3 separate regions of the Homo sapiens genome follow, and all the other regions are linked to region 3. The links come from fine-mapping of genetic effects on gene expression. A gene starts in region 3. Each other region holds a variant in brackets. All regions are shown on one strand. Distances are between the middles of the regions.

Evidence for each region. PIP is the estimated chance that this variant, and not a neighbour inherited with it, causes the effect.
Region 1: its variant is fine-mapped to the expression of LMF1 in whole blood (TOPMed, PIP above 0.99).
Region 2: its variant is fine-mapped to the expression of LMF1 in whole blood (INTERVAL, PIP above 0.99).

The regions. Positions count from the first base shown.
Region 1 is chr16:854,760-858,864 of GRCh38, forward strand. The region is part of intron 10 of LMF1 (lipase maturation factor 1); the gene reads right to left. Among named protein-coding and RNA genes, the nearest start is that of GNG13, 56 kb to the left of the region's middle. The variant C/T (reference allele first, on the strand shown) is at 2,280.
Region 2 is chr16:933,786-937,898 of GRCh38, forward strand. LMF1 (lipase maturation factor 1) reads right to left here. Exons shown (of 11, transcript NM_022773.4): 3 at 459-469. LMF1-AS1 (LMF1 antisense RNA 1) reads left to right here. Exons shown (of 2, transcript NR_110946.1): 2 at 1-739. Among named protein-coding and RNA genes, the nearest start is that of LMF1-AS1, 15 kb to the left of the region's middle. The variant C/T (reference allele first, on the strand shown) is at 1,985.
Region 3 is chr16:968,795-972,907 of GRCh38, forward strand. LMF1 (lipase maturation factor 1) reads right to left here and starts at 2,190. Exons shown (of 11, transcript NM_022773.4): 1 at 1,994-2,190. The coding sequence starts at 2,186. RefSeq lists enhancers at 395-1,386, 3,369-4,113 and a silencer at 1,432-2,601.

The DNA.
Region 1 (4,105 bases), 110 kb before region 3:
CCGGCTCCTCAGCCTGCTGCTGAGCTGCAGCTGCTCACAGGGTCCCCCACGGACAGAGGGGCTGCATGAGGAGCCCCCACCCTGAGCACAGGTAGACCCCCAGCAGACCCCGGGCAGGGCAACTGTTCCAGTCGGCACCCTCAGCAGTGAACAGCGCAGCAAGGGGGAAGGGCGGACGGGGGGCAGCTCCGGGAGGGGAGACCCAGCAGGGCCCACTTGGCAGAGGGACCGGCCCGGGGAAGGCCAGGAGCTTCACGGGTGGCACTGAGCAAGCCTGAGACCGTTCACAAGGCCCCAGTTTGAGCCCCAAGTGTCCCCCGCCTGGGAAGGTGGGGAGAGGAACCTACTGCTCATGGTGTGGCGTCTCCACCATCAGGCCAGTCCTGGCGCAAGGTGCCTGGGGGTTTCGGTCCACGGGGCAGTCCGAGGCTGTGAGGGAGCCAGGCCGGGACCTGTTTCCTGAGGGCGGAGCCTCTGCTTCCCAGGGCTTCAGGCCCTTCCCTGCCTGAGACGTGCAGATGCTGGCTGGCTGCTCTCCTCTGTCATGCCCGAGTGGGATGAAGGCCCCCACCCCCATCTCCCCTGGAGCAGGGTAGCGGGCAGGTCTCTCTGCTGAGCCCTGTATAAGGTCCCGCCTGACCCCTGGTGACCAGGCCTGGTTTAGGCCATACTGGGTCTTGGTCCCTGGCTGGCAAGCCCTCACTGGACTCTCGGAGGACTGGGCATTTTCTCCTGGGGGTGGGACGAAGCCCCCTCATGTCCAGGGTTGCTCGGCTGCCCCGGAGGAGGAGGCGCCAGGAGGAATTGTCACCGTCACAAGCTCCCGGCCCTCCAGGCCCCTTCGCAGTTGTGCAGCAGGAGCGGAAGCTTCTCAGCCCACAGGGCGGCTGCTGCCTGGCTGGGATCCATGGCAGAGCTGGGCCCCAGCTGCCCGGTGGGTGTGATGGTGCAGCCATAACAGGACCCTCTCATGGCCCCTGGAATGAGCCCAGGCAGGTGCCAGAGGCTTCACACTGCACCAGGGCCCGGTAGCGACTGTCTGGGCTGCTGTCATTATTTGGGGCTTCTGGTGACCTGCACACAGCTGTGCTCTGGGGGCTGGGGGTGGAGACCTTGGGCCATGCCCCTTAGGCTGGCAGGGTGAGGGCCTCTGGGTCCACCCGGCTCCTCCTGGCTTTGAGTCTCTTTGGGTCTGGGTGTGTGATGGATGATGATTCTTCTCTCCCCAAGTCTGAATTACGCCAGGAAAACCGGGAAGACAGAGACCCTCTGGGTGGAGGAGGGTCCCTGAGGCGCCTGATGGGAGAGAGGGATCAGCAGCTCCAAGAGGAGTGGGGTCGGGCCTTTGGAAAACCTCCCGGGCAGCCAAGACTGAGGGTGATGCTGGCAGTTGGTGGCTCCCGTCCACTCCAGGAGGGCACTGCCCACTGCCCTGGGCCCCAGGGGTCTTTCCTGGACCCCTTGGGCCTGAGGCTGCCATGGTTTTCCTTGGCTATAAGGACGGCAGCGGCCAGCATGGGGACTGAGGCCAGGTGGTGCCAGGCAGAGAAGTCACACTGGACCCCGAGGTCGACCTCTGAGCAGCTCAGCAGCAGACTGAAGGGACGGGCTGGAATGCGGCCGTGAGGGCGCTGGGCTGTGCGGGCAGCATGGTCCCTGCACACTCTCCTGGGCCTTGCTAGGGCAATGCAGTCCCCAGGCAGGCCCACCCTCTCCCAAACCCTGCATTTAGTGAGGCCGGGAGGGTGGGGATCCTGGGAAGGCCTCCTGCAGTGGGATTGCCCATCTTTCCCAAATTCCTGCTCTTGCTTTCTGCTCCTTCCCAGGACAGGGTCAAGGCCTAGGGGGCCCAGGGCCTGGTCTCTGACATCAAGAGCTGGAACTGCAGTTTGGAAAGGGTTTTGGAAAGGGTCAGAACCCTCTGTGCCAACTGGCAGGTTGGTGGGAAGGGGCCCCAGGCCCCAGCGGCCTGAAGGGTTGCATTTCATTCCTGCAGACAAAGTACCCGAGAAGGCCATGGCACCGCCCCGGAGGGCTTGAGAGTGTTGAAAATAGGGGATCTCCCAGCCCTTTTGAAATAGACCCTACTGGCAACAGCTGGGCATCTTGCACAGCTATAGTAGGGATTGCAGCCAGGGCCTGACACTGAGGCCACAGACACGGGTCCCATCCACGCCCGGACCCCCGTGTCCTTCCACACCCTCCCCGACCTTCGGCCTCCTTGTGTGATTTCAAGAACGTATGATTTCAAGAATGAGTGGAACCCTGCGGCACGTACC[C/T]GCGGGGCAGGCGATTCTCACGCCAATTCTCAGGTTCCGCCAGGTCGTGTGATGGAGGCTTCCTTCCTCCTCGTCGCTGACCGGCGTCTGCGGCGTGAGTGCACCCTAGTTTGTGCGGTCGCTCTCTTGTGGAAGGACAGCTGAGCTCTTTGCAGTTTTTGTCTGTGACGGCTGCCGTAAACCTCTGCACGGGTTTCTGCGTGAACCTGGGTTTCAACTCTCTGGCTTAAACGTCCATGGAAGCAGCTGCTGAGTCCACTGCAACTTCGGGTGTCCTTTTTGAGGAGCCATTTTACCCTCCCAGCAACAGCCGAGTGACTCGATTTCTTGGTATCTTTGCCAGCATGTGGGGTTGTTGCTACTTTTATTCCAGCCGTTTTGATGGGTGTGCAGTGGTGTCACGGGACGGGTGTGAGTGGTGTCTCGGGACGGGTGTGAGTGGTGTCACCGGACGGGTGTGAGTGGTGTCTCGGGACGGGTGTGAGTGGTGTCACGGGACGGGTGTGAGTGGTGTCACGGGACGGGTGTGAGTGGTGTCTCGGGACGGGTGTGAGTGGTGTCACGGGACGGGTGTGAGTGATGTCACGGGACGGGTGTGAGTGGTGTCACGGGACGGGTGTGAGTGGTGTCACGGGACGGGTGTGAGTGGTGTCTCGGGACGGGTGTGCGTGGTGTCTCGGGACGGGTGTGCGTGGTGTCTCGGGACGGGTGTGCAGTGGTGTCTCGGGACGGGTGTGCGTGGTGTCTCGGGATGGGTGTGCGTGGTGTCTCGGGATGGGTGTGAGTGGTGTCTCGGGATGGGTGTGAGTGGTGTCTCGGGATGGGTGTGCGTGGTGTCACGGGATGGGTGTGCAGTGGTGTCTCGGGATGGGTGTGCGTGGTGTCTCGGGATGGGTGTGCGTGGTGTCTCGGGATGGGTGTGCGTGGTGTCTCGGGATGGGTGTGCGTGGTGTCTCGGGATGGGTGTGAGTGGTGTCTCGGGATGGGTGTGAGTGGTGTCTCGGGATGGGTGTGCAGTGGTGTCTCGGGATGGGTGTGAGTGGTGTCTCGGGATGGGTGTGAGTGGTGTCTCGGGATGGGTGTGAGTGGTGTCACGGGATGGGTGTGAGTGGTGTCTCGGGATGGGTGTGCGTGGTGTCACGGGATGGGTGTGAGTGGTGTCTCGGGATGGGTGTGCGTGGTGTCACGGGATGGGTGTGAGTGGTGTCACGGGATGGGTGTGCAGTGGTGTCTCGGGATGGGTGTGCAGTGGTGTCTCGGGATGGGTGTGCAGTGGTGTCTCGGGATGGGTGTGAGTGGTGTCTCGGGACGGGTGTGCAGTGGTGTCTCGGGACGGGTGTGAGTGGTGTCTCGGGACGGGTGTGAGTGGTGTCACGGGACGGGTGTGAGTGGTGTCACGGGACGGGTGTGAGTGGTGACTCGGGACGGGTGTGCAGTGGTGACTCGGGACGGGTGTGCGTGGTGTCTCGGGACGGGTGTGCAGTGGTGTCTCGGGACGGGTGTGCAGTGGTGTCTCGGGACGGGTGTGAGTGGTGTCTCGGGACGGGTGTGAGTGGTGTCTCGGGACGGGTGTGCAGTGGTGTCTCGGGACGGGTGTGCAGTGGTGTCTCGGGACGGGTGTGAGTGGTGTCACGGGACGGGTGTGAGTGGTGTCACGGGACGGGTGTGAGTGGTGTCTCGGGACGGGTGTGAGTGGTGTCTCGGGACGGGTGTGACTGGTGTCACGGGACGGGTGTGCAGTGGTGTCACGGGACGGGTGTGAGTGGTGTCTCGGGACGGGTGTGAGTGGTGTCACGGGACGGGTGTGAGTGGTGTCACGGGACGGG
Region 2 (4,113 bases), 35 kb before region 3:
CTCCAGTATTGACTGCGTTGTGTGGGATGGGGAAGACCTCCGGTCCCCTCCACCAAACAAAGCACAAGCCAAAGTGCCCACCAGCGTGAGTGCCGTGAGCACCGTGAACCTTCTCTATGCCGAGGGGCACACAGCCTTGAGCGTCCACGGGGGATGGGCCTGTGGGTGCTTTCCCTCTGCCCCAGGGAAGCGGTGGTAATCACACCTGTGAGATGCCGACAATCATGCGTGCGACCATCCGTCTCTAGGTGCCCGGGGCCTGGAAGCCCAGGAGCTCCCACATCCAGGGAGGAGGCACGGATCAGATCACAAGCGCCCATCACTGCCCTCCGTGCATACTGGGAAGGCTGATGGCAGAGGCTAAGGAAGGGGAGAGGCCAGGAAAAGTGCGTGAAGATACATACCAAACACACAACGCTCAACTCTCGCAGAGCTTTCTCTAAATGCATCTCACTTACCGAAAGAGTACCTGAAAAACAAAAGAAGAAACGAGTATTAACACTTTGGCTTGTTTCAACCAAAAACCCACTGTTTCCCCACTGAGTGAAGCCCACCCTGGCACCCAGCACGGTGTGGGGTCAGGGAAGCCCTGCGAGGAGGACCTGCCCGCTGGGCATTAGGGGAACAGGAGCCCCTCCCCACGGCTCACACACAGGCAGGCCCAGAACAGGCAACCAAAACATATTCCAAGATACACCTACTAAGTACCCATAGAAATAAAAAAATATGTATTTTGCGAATGAGTGAATTAATACTTATTTTTTTGCAGCATCAATTAAATGCCACGGCAAATGTCATACTCTGGAATCTGAAAATTTAAGGACATCACATGACCTCGAGCGCAGCTCATTAGAAAAGGGATCTTAAATGAAAGGAATTGGTGGGAAAGGCTGGGCAAGGCCTGTGTCTTTACTATTGAATCCCAACCAAAAGGGGTTTCAGTGATGCTGTGACCCGCTTCTTACCCTCAGACAGCAGAGGCGTGGGCAAGCAGCACGGGTGTCTAGAGGAGGCAGAGCCGCGGGAAAGCAACACCAATGCATCCCACACCTGCCTCAGCCTCTGACCTCTCTAACCCCACCCCACCTCACAGCAAGACCTACCCTTGGGCTCTAGAAGAAACCCCCTCTGCCACCTATGGTCCCGCAAGAGGCGGGCAGGATGCACCAATGCCCGCATGAGGAGCCCTGCCTCAGGTGCTCAGTGCCACACCTGACGTAGAAGGCACAGCATGTGGTTTGTGGACACGAAATGTACGGAACAGGCCGGTCCACAGACACAGGAGGTAGATTGCCAGGTTTATCCTGGGGTTGATCAGAATTTTTTTTTTTTTTTGAGACACGGTCTCATTCTATCACCCAGGTTGGAGTGCAGCGGTGCATAACCTCACTACAACCTCAAGCTCCTGGGCTGAAGCAGTCCTCCCGCCTCAGCCTCCTGAGTTGCTGGGACCACAGGTGTACACCATGATGCCCCACTAATTTTTGTATTTTCTATAGAGGTTTTGCCATGTTGCCCTGGCTGGTCTCAAACTCCTAGACTCAGGCGATCCTCCTGCCTCCACCTCCCTAAGTGCTGGGATGACAGGTGTGAACTGCCCCAGCCAGAATGTTTTCAACGTGGTGCTGATGGCTTCAGAGTCCATGAATATGTACGCTGACTTGTACACTTTATGTCAGGGTTGTCGGTTGTCCAATCTTGTGGCTTCCGTGGGCCACAATGGAAGAAGAAAAATTGTCTTGGGCCACACATAAAATATACTAACACTAGTGACAGCTGATGAGCTAAAAAAAAAAAAACTCATAATGTTTTAAGAAAGTTTATGAATTTGTGTTGGGTCTCATTCAAAGCCATCCTGAGCCGCGTGTGGACAAGCTTGCTTTAAATGCAGTTTTATGGTATGTGAATTCTATCTCACTAAAGACATTAAGGAGCAACGTTGCCTAATGAAATCCACAGGAATGAAAAGCTACAGGGTGTGGGA[C/T]GGCCCTCAGGGCCCACTGCCCATCCCAGGGCTCCCTACATCGTCCGACCTTTGAATATGTCTGTGATTTTCCACCTTGACATTACGATAAAAGCACAGCAAAGGCCATGACAAACGACATCTGAGCCGTGGGGGAGGTGGGCGGGGACAGAGTACTGGAGGGCTCATTCTTCAACCGCATCAGGTGTGTGGCTGCCCCAGTGGCTCTGATATCTTTTTAAATCATCCCTTACCCGGTAGAGGTCCACACTATTTATAGGTAAAAGAGTACGAAGTCTAGATTTGCTTTTCACTCCAGAGGAAGAAGGCTGGGAGGGAGAGAGGGCACCCCGTTGGCTGAGGAAGGAGGCTGGGAGGGAGAGAGGGCACCCCGTGGGCTGAGGAAGGTGGCTGGGAGACAGAGGGGGCACCGTGTGGGCTGAGGAAGGAGGCTGGGAGAGAGGGGGTACCCCGTGGGCTGAGGAAGGAGGCTGGGAGGGAGAGAGGGCACCCCGTGGGCTGAGGAAGGAGGCTGGGAGGGAGAGAGGGCACCCCGTGGGCTGAGGAAGGTGGCTGGGAGAGAGAGGGGGCACCGTGTGGGCTGAGGAAGGAGGCTAGGAGAGAGGGGGTACCCCGTGGGCTGAGGAAGCAGGCTGGGAGGGAGAGAGGGCACCCCGTGGGCTGAGGAAGGAGGCTGGGAGGGAGGGAGGGCACCCCGTGGGCTGAGGAAGGTGGCTGGGAGAGAGAGGAGGCACCCTGTGGGCTCAGGAAGGAGGCTGGGAGAGAGGGGGTACCCCGTGGGCTGAGGAAGCTGGCTGGGAGGGAGAGAGGGCACCCCGTGGGCTGAGGAAGGAGGCTGGGAGGGAGAGAGGGCACTCTGTGGGCTGCAGGATACACTCCCTGCCCCCCTTTCCGTGACCAAAATCTTCCAAGCAACCGCTGTACACATTGGCTAATGCTAGAAATAAATTTACCCCCAAAATGTTCCCAATATATAACCTTAGTTGAACGGAGAAAGGAAAAGGAGCTGATTTTTCAAATCCATAGAGAATAAAAGCTTTGCTCTTTTATTAGCCAGGTGTGGTGGCGCACACCTGTAGTCCCAGTGACCTTGGGGCCGAGGCTGGAAGATGGCTTAAGCCCAGGAGTTCCAGGCTGCAGTGAGCCAAGATCGCGCTACTATTGCACTCCAGCCTGGGCGACAGGGCGGGAGATCCTAGCTAAAAAGACGCAGCCTCACGCTTTTATCAGAAGGGACCAAGGCCTGGAAGAGTTTCAGTGACTCAGGGCCACCAAAATACAAGCGTTGTGCAGAGAAGGGGTGAGTCCAGACGCAGCTGCCTTCACATCGGCTGAGGGTGTTCGAAAATGCATTCTTCTGTCACTTCACCTGCTTTGAATTTTGCATTTCAAGGCTGCCTGATAAAAGAATCTTTAAATAGCAGGTTTTAGCTAAGGTAATGACACGAAAAACTAAAACGTCTTATTACTTTCATAGCTTTTATTACATTTTCAACAGTTGGAACTCACGTTAGAAGATACCGACTCCGTGGAGTTCTTCTGGGTTTGTTCTGCTGTTTTGTTCTTTAAAGAAACTCAAGTCCTTTCCTGGACAGTGGGACGTAGATTTTGCTTTTGGATGGTCGGGGTTAACACGCTCCCTCTGACTGCCTAGTGAGGTCAGGAACCTGCTCCCCTGTGAGCCTCCACACCTGACTGACAGGCCGCTGGGGTCTCTGTTGACTGACAGGCTGCTGGGGTCTCTGTTGACCGACAGGCTGCTGGGGTCTCTGTTGACTGACAGGTCGTTGGGGTCTCTGTGCTAGGGAGGCAGCAAGACCCCCGATGCCCTGCAGATGCTGCACACGGCCCCAGCACAGGCCCTGCCCCTTGCACTGGATGGGGGCTCCCATTTCTATAGGAAGCTTTTGATTTAAAAACACATTTGGCTCCAGCTACTTATCATCTGTAAAAAGACTTCATGTATAAATATTTGTTAAATTTTATGCTCCCCATTTTGGGGCAGGCTAGTTGTAAATTTGTAAGAAATCTTCCAGTTTCTGGCCTAGTGCAAAGAACTTTGCTGGAGGCCTATCTAGAGTGTGTAGTAGGGACTTAATCATGAACCATGTCCTCCTGAACCACGCCCA
Region 3 (4,113 bases):
GAGATCAAAGGAGCCTCAGCTCGTTTGAAAGAGTCTGAGCTGGTTTTATGAAGCTGTGCTCCGGAGGCAAGGCCGCTGGGACTTCCTGCTGTATCTCGGGCTCCCCTGTGGAAGGCCTATTAGAGCCTCACAGCTTCACTTTATCTCTACTTCATCGTTTGCTAAGTGACAGCACCAACATTTAAAATGACTGTTTAATACTGTGGAGGGAAAAGCAACCTGGGAAGAACTACTTTTTAAAATAATTGCAGGCCGGGCATAGTGGCTCACGCTTGTAATCCCAGCACTTTGGGAGGCCCTGAGGTCAGAAGTTCGAGACCAGCCTGGCCAACATGGTGAAACCCTGTCTCTACTAAAAATATTTTTAAAAATTAGTCAGGCATGGTGGTGCGTGCCTATAATCCCAGCTACTCGGAAGGCTGAGGCAGGAGAATCGCTTGAACCCAGGAGACGGAGGTTGCAGTGGGCCGACATGGTGCCGTTGCGCTCCAGCCTGGGCAACAGAGTGAGACTCCGTCTCGAAAAAAATAAATAAATAAAATAAAATAGTTGCTTTAAAGAAAGAGAGAGAGAGACACAGACCCAGTTGAAGCCGATACTGCAATCCCACAGGAAACCTTGTAGTGATGAGCGCGTCTCATCACTTTGCACCAGGAGGTGGAAAGTATCACACAAATGTCACACAAAACGTCGAACTGAGCATCACTCCAGCACAACCAGGCTACCAAACTTCCCGCGACGTGTGTGGCACAAAGGCTGTGCAAAGAAGAACTTCTGCAACCTGACCCTTTCCTTCCACACGTGAGGGAAGCAGACGATGGAAGGAAAGGGAGACGTCCAATGCCCACGGCCTACAACCAACGCGTGGGCAACGCCCGGGGCCAGCAGCTCCGGAGCCCTCTGGGACGGTGACTGCCCACGCGCCCCGCTGGCTGCATCTCGGCCTGGCAGGCTCCCCTCACTTCCATACTCATTTGAGAGCCTCACTTGAGGTTCGTAGCTCCTGACACGTTGGGCTTATGAAACATGTATCCGTGTGATCACATGTCACCGTGATCACAGAACCGTTCTCTTCCAAACCAGTTCTGGGTTGTAGGGACTGGGGAGAGAGGGAGTTGGAATCGCCAGCTGCCCCTGGCCAGGGGATCCAGAGGTTTTGAGCGTGAACTGACTTTTCTCAGAGCTCTGCTCTGTAGGCTGCGCACGCGGGCCCCGCACAGCTGTGGGGTGAAGGGTCTCCGCCAGTGGACCCGGCCAACCACATCCCACAGTGAGGCGCAGGCTTCACTTGCAGATGAGGTTCCGGAGCTGCCCCCAGACCTCCGCTGGGAATCTTCCCGAACGCAGACTGAGCTAGTCGAGAACACTAAAGGAGAAACTCCAGTCTGGCCACCAGCCAGTCACCTTCCCTCAGCCCCTGGGAGACGCGAAGGAGGCTCCCGGGCCGGCTCCTCGGATTTTGGCAGGGGCCGCACGCGGCAGGGATGTGGCGTGCGGGCGTCCAGTTACAGTGGGAACCTTCACCGTCAGCACAGCGCTGTGTCGGGGACAGCAGGAGCGCCTCGCCTCTCCAGGCCGCCCCCCGCCCCGCAGCCAGGACGCAGACCCCCGACCTGCGCACGGACGGGTGACCCTCCACCTGCCCAGCTCTCCTGGGAACTCCTGGGCCAGGGCCCGGGCCGGCCCCGCCTCGCATAGCCCCGAGCCGGTCCTGGCAGGCGCGGCCGTGCAACTTCGGGGCTGCGGGTGGAACCGGGAGCCCAGGAGCCCAGGCCGGAGGCTCGAGGCGGCGACAGGGGTAGGGCCGGGTGCGCTGTCGCCAGCAAGCCTTGTCCTGCCCTGCCCGCCCCGCCTTGCCCGGGCCCCAGCAGGAAGGAGGGCTGCGTGGGGGCGCCGCGGCCGCGAGACCGCGCGGAGGAGTCTCGAGGGAGGGCGGGGGTCGTGGTGCGCGGAGGTGACACTGGCGGATGTCCCGGGCCCGCCCGGCACTCACAGTACACGAAGGCTAGGGCCTTCAGGAGCACGATCCGGGTCAGCCAGAAGGTGCCCGTGTGGAGATGGGCCGGAGAGCCTGCGGGGCCACGCCCCGGCGCGGGCGGCGACTCAGGCTCCGGATCCGAGTACCCAGTCTTCCGCCTCCTCAGCGACTCCGCGGGCGCCGCCATTGTTGGGCTGTCAGGGCGCATGTGCGGGGAGGGCGCACTCCCGGAGGCCCCGCCCATTCTCGGAGGCCCCGCCCATTCTCGGAGGCCCCGCCTCTCCCTGGCCGGCCCTGCCCACGGCCGAAGGCCCCACCCACACCCCGGGAGGCCCCGCTCACAGTCCCGGAGGCACCGCCCCCTCCAGCCGGCCCCGCCCACGCGCGGGAGCGGGTGCCCGGAGCCTGCCTCCTTCGCAGTTCTCGCTGGGCGCTGCTGCGGGTAGGGCGCGGGGCCGGGTACCTGGGAGGTGGTGCGCGTCGCCCGACCCGAGCTCACTGGGGCAGGCACGCGTGCCTTCCGTCAGTCCGAGTTGCAGAGGCCAGGTGCCCTCCCCCAGCCAGGCGCCTTCCCAGCTGTGGTCCTGGGGAAGGTGGGCTGCACAGGCCCTGGCGGTGCTACCACTGCGTGCCCCTGCCTCACAGCTGACACTCACTCTCTGCGGAGGAGGGTGCTAGGGCGATCGTCGCAGCCAGCAAGGGACAGAGTAGGCAGGGCTGTGCCTGGAATGCTCGGGGGACCCTCCCCTTTCTCCCAGCCTGAGCACCCTTCCGCCTTTGCACAACCCAGCTCCTGCCTGCCCTTGGGACTGGACTTCAAGCTGTGGGGGAAGAGGGGGACTCAGGACTCAGGAGGGAAGGGCTAACTGCCCAATGCCCCAAACAGAACATGAAGGAGGACGCCAGCACTCTACACTCTGATGACTGGAGCGGGGTTCTGGAGGCTGATGTGAAGCGGGTGCTAGGAAGGGCTGGGGTCACAGGCATTCCTTAGAGGAAAGAAAGGGCGTGAGGCTAGAGTAGGCATTGGAGACCTAGGGGTTAGTGAATAAACTGTGGGGCACTTAGGTGGAAGTGCAGATTTCTCCTTATTCATTTGTCAGCACTCTTTACGTATGAAAAATCCTGTTCTTTTGTGTATATTGGAAATATTTGTCCTGGTTTTTTGTTTTTGTTTTCATGTATTCTTCTCTTTTGCCTCTCTAGCTTTCCTAGTGTTTTGGCGTATCAATTATCGCCACTGGGTTGGTCAAATGACCCGTCTTTATTGCTTGTTTAATTACCTGTTTAATTATATCTTCACCACCTGCAGTGTGAGCCTTGTGTGGGCAGGGACTGACTGTGGACATCGGGCCCCCAAATCCAGGCCTGACCAGCAGTGGCCCGAGCTTCCTCTCAGCCTCCACCTTCCCTGTGTTGCTGGGGCCGTAGCATACGTGTACATCTTATGGTTTAATTCATTTTTAGTTTCCATTTCTTTTCTATGAAACCCCCCTTAGGAGCCCAGCTGTGAAATGGGACCCTGTTAAAGATGTTGCAACGGGTACGAACACACAAACATCCTCCGCATGCTGGCCCAGCCTCCGGGAGCGTGGTGTGTGCCTGAGGGCTCGGAGCCTTGGGGATCGCAGGAGGCATCGGCCCTGGCTGGCGCCCGGCACCCAAGTCCCTCCACAGAGCCCACGACCCGTACCTCTCCTCGTGACCTGGGGGCCAGCTTAGGAAGGGCCGGCACAGCCCACACTGTTCCCCTCATCTGTGGGGAACAGGGAGCCCCACACCCTGGGACCACGCCTGCAGAGCGGGCCCTGTCTGGGTGCCAGGCCTGCTAGGGGACGGACGGCGAGAGGGACTGCCCTGCGTCAGGTGTGGCCCTGCGCTGTCCTCAGGTGGGGCTGCCCTCACAAGGAGGCTTTGTGCACAGCTTCCCCTCGCTGGGCCGAGCTGCTCTCCCCGCGAAGGGCACAATGGGGCATTGTGCAGAGCAGAAAAGGGCCTCTTGTTCCAGCTTCCAGCGCTCCGGGCTCCGGCTCTGCATTTGCCCAGGGTGGGAGCAGTCAGCGGAAGGGTCTGCTGGGAGCTCCTGTTCTCTCTGAGCTCAAGTTTCCCTCAGGGTCTGCTCTCTTGAGACGCTG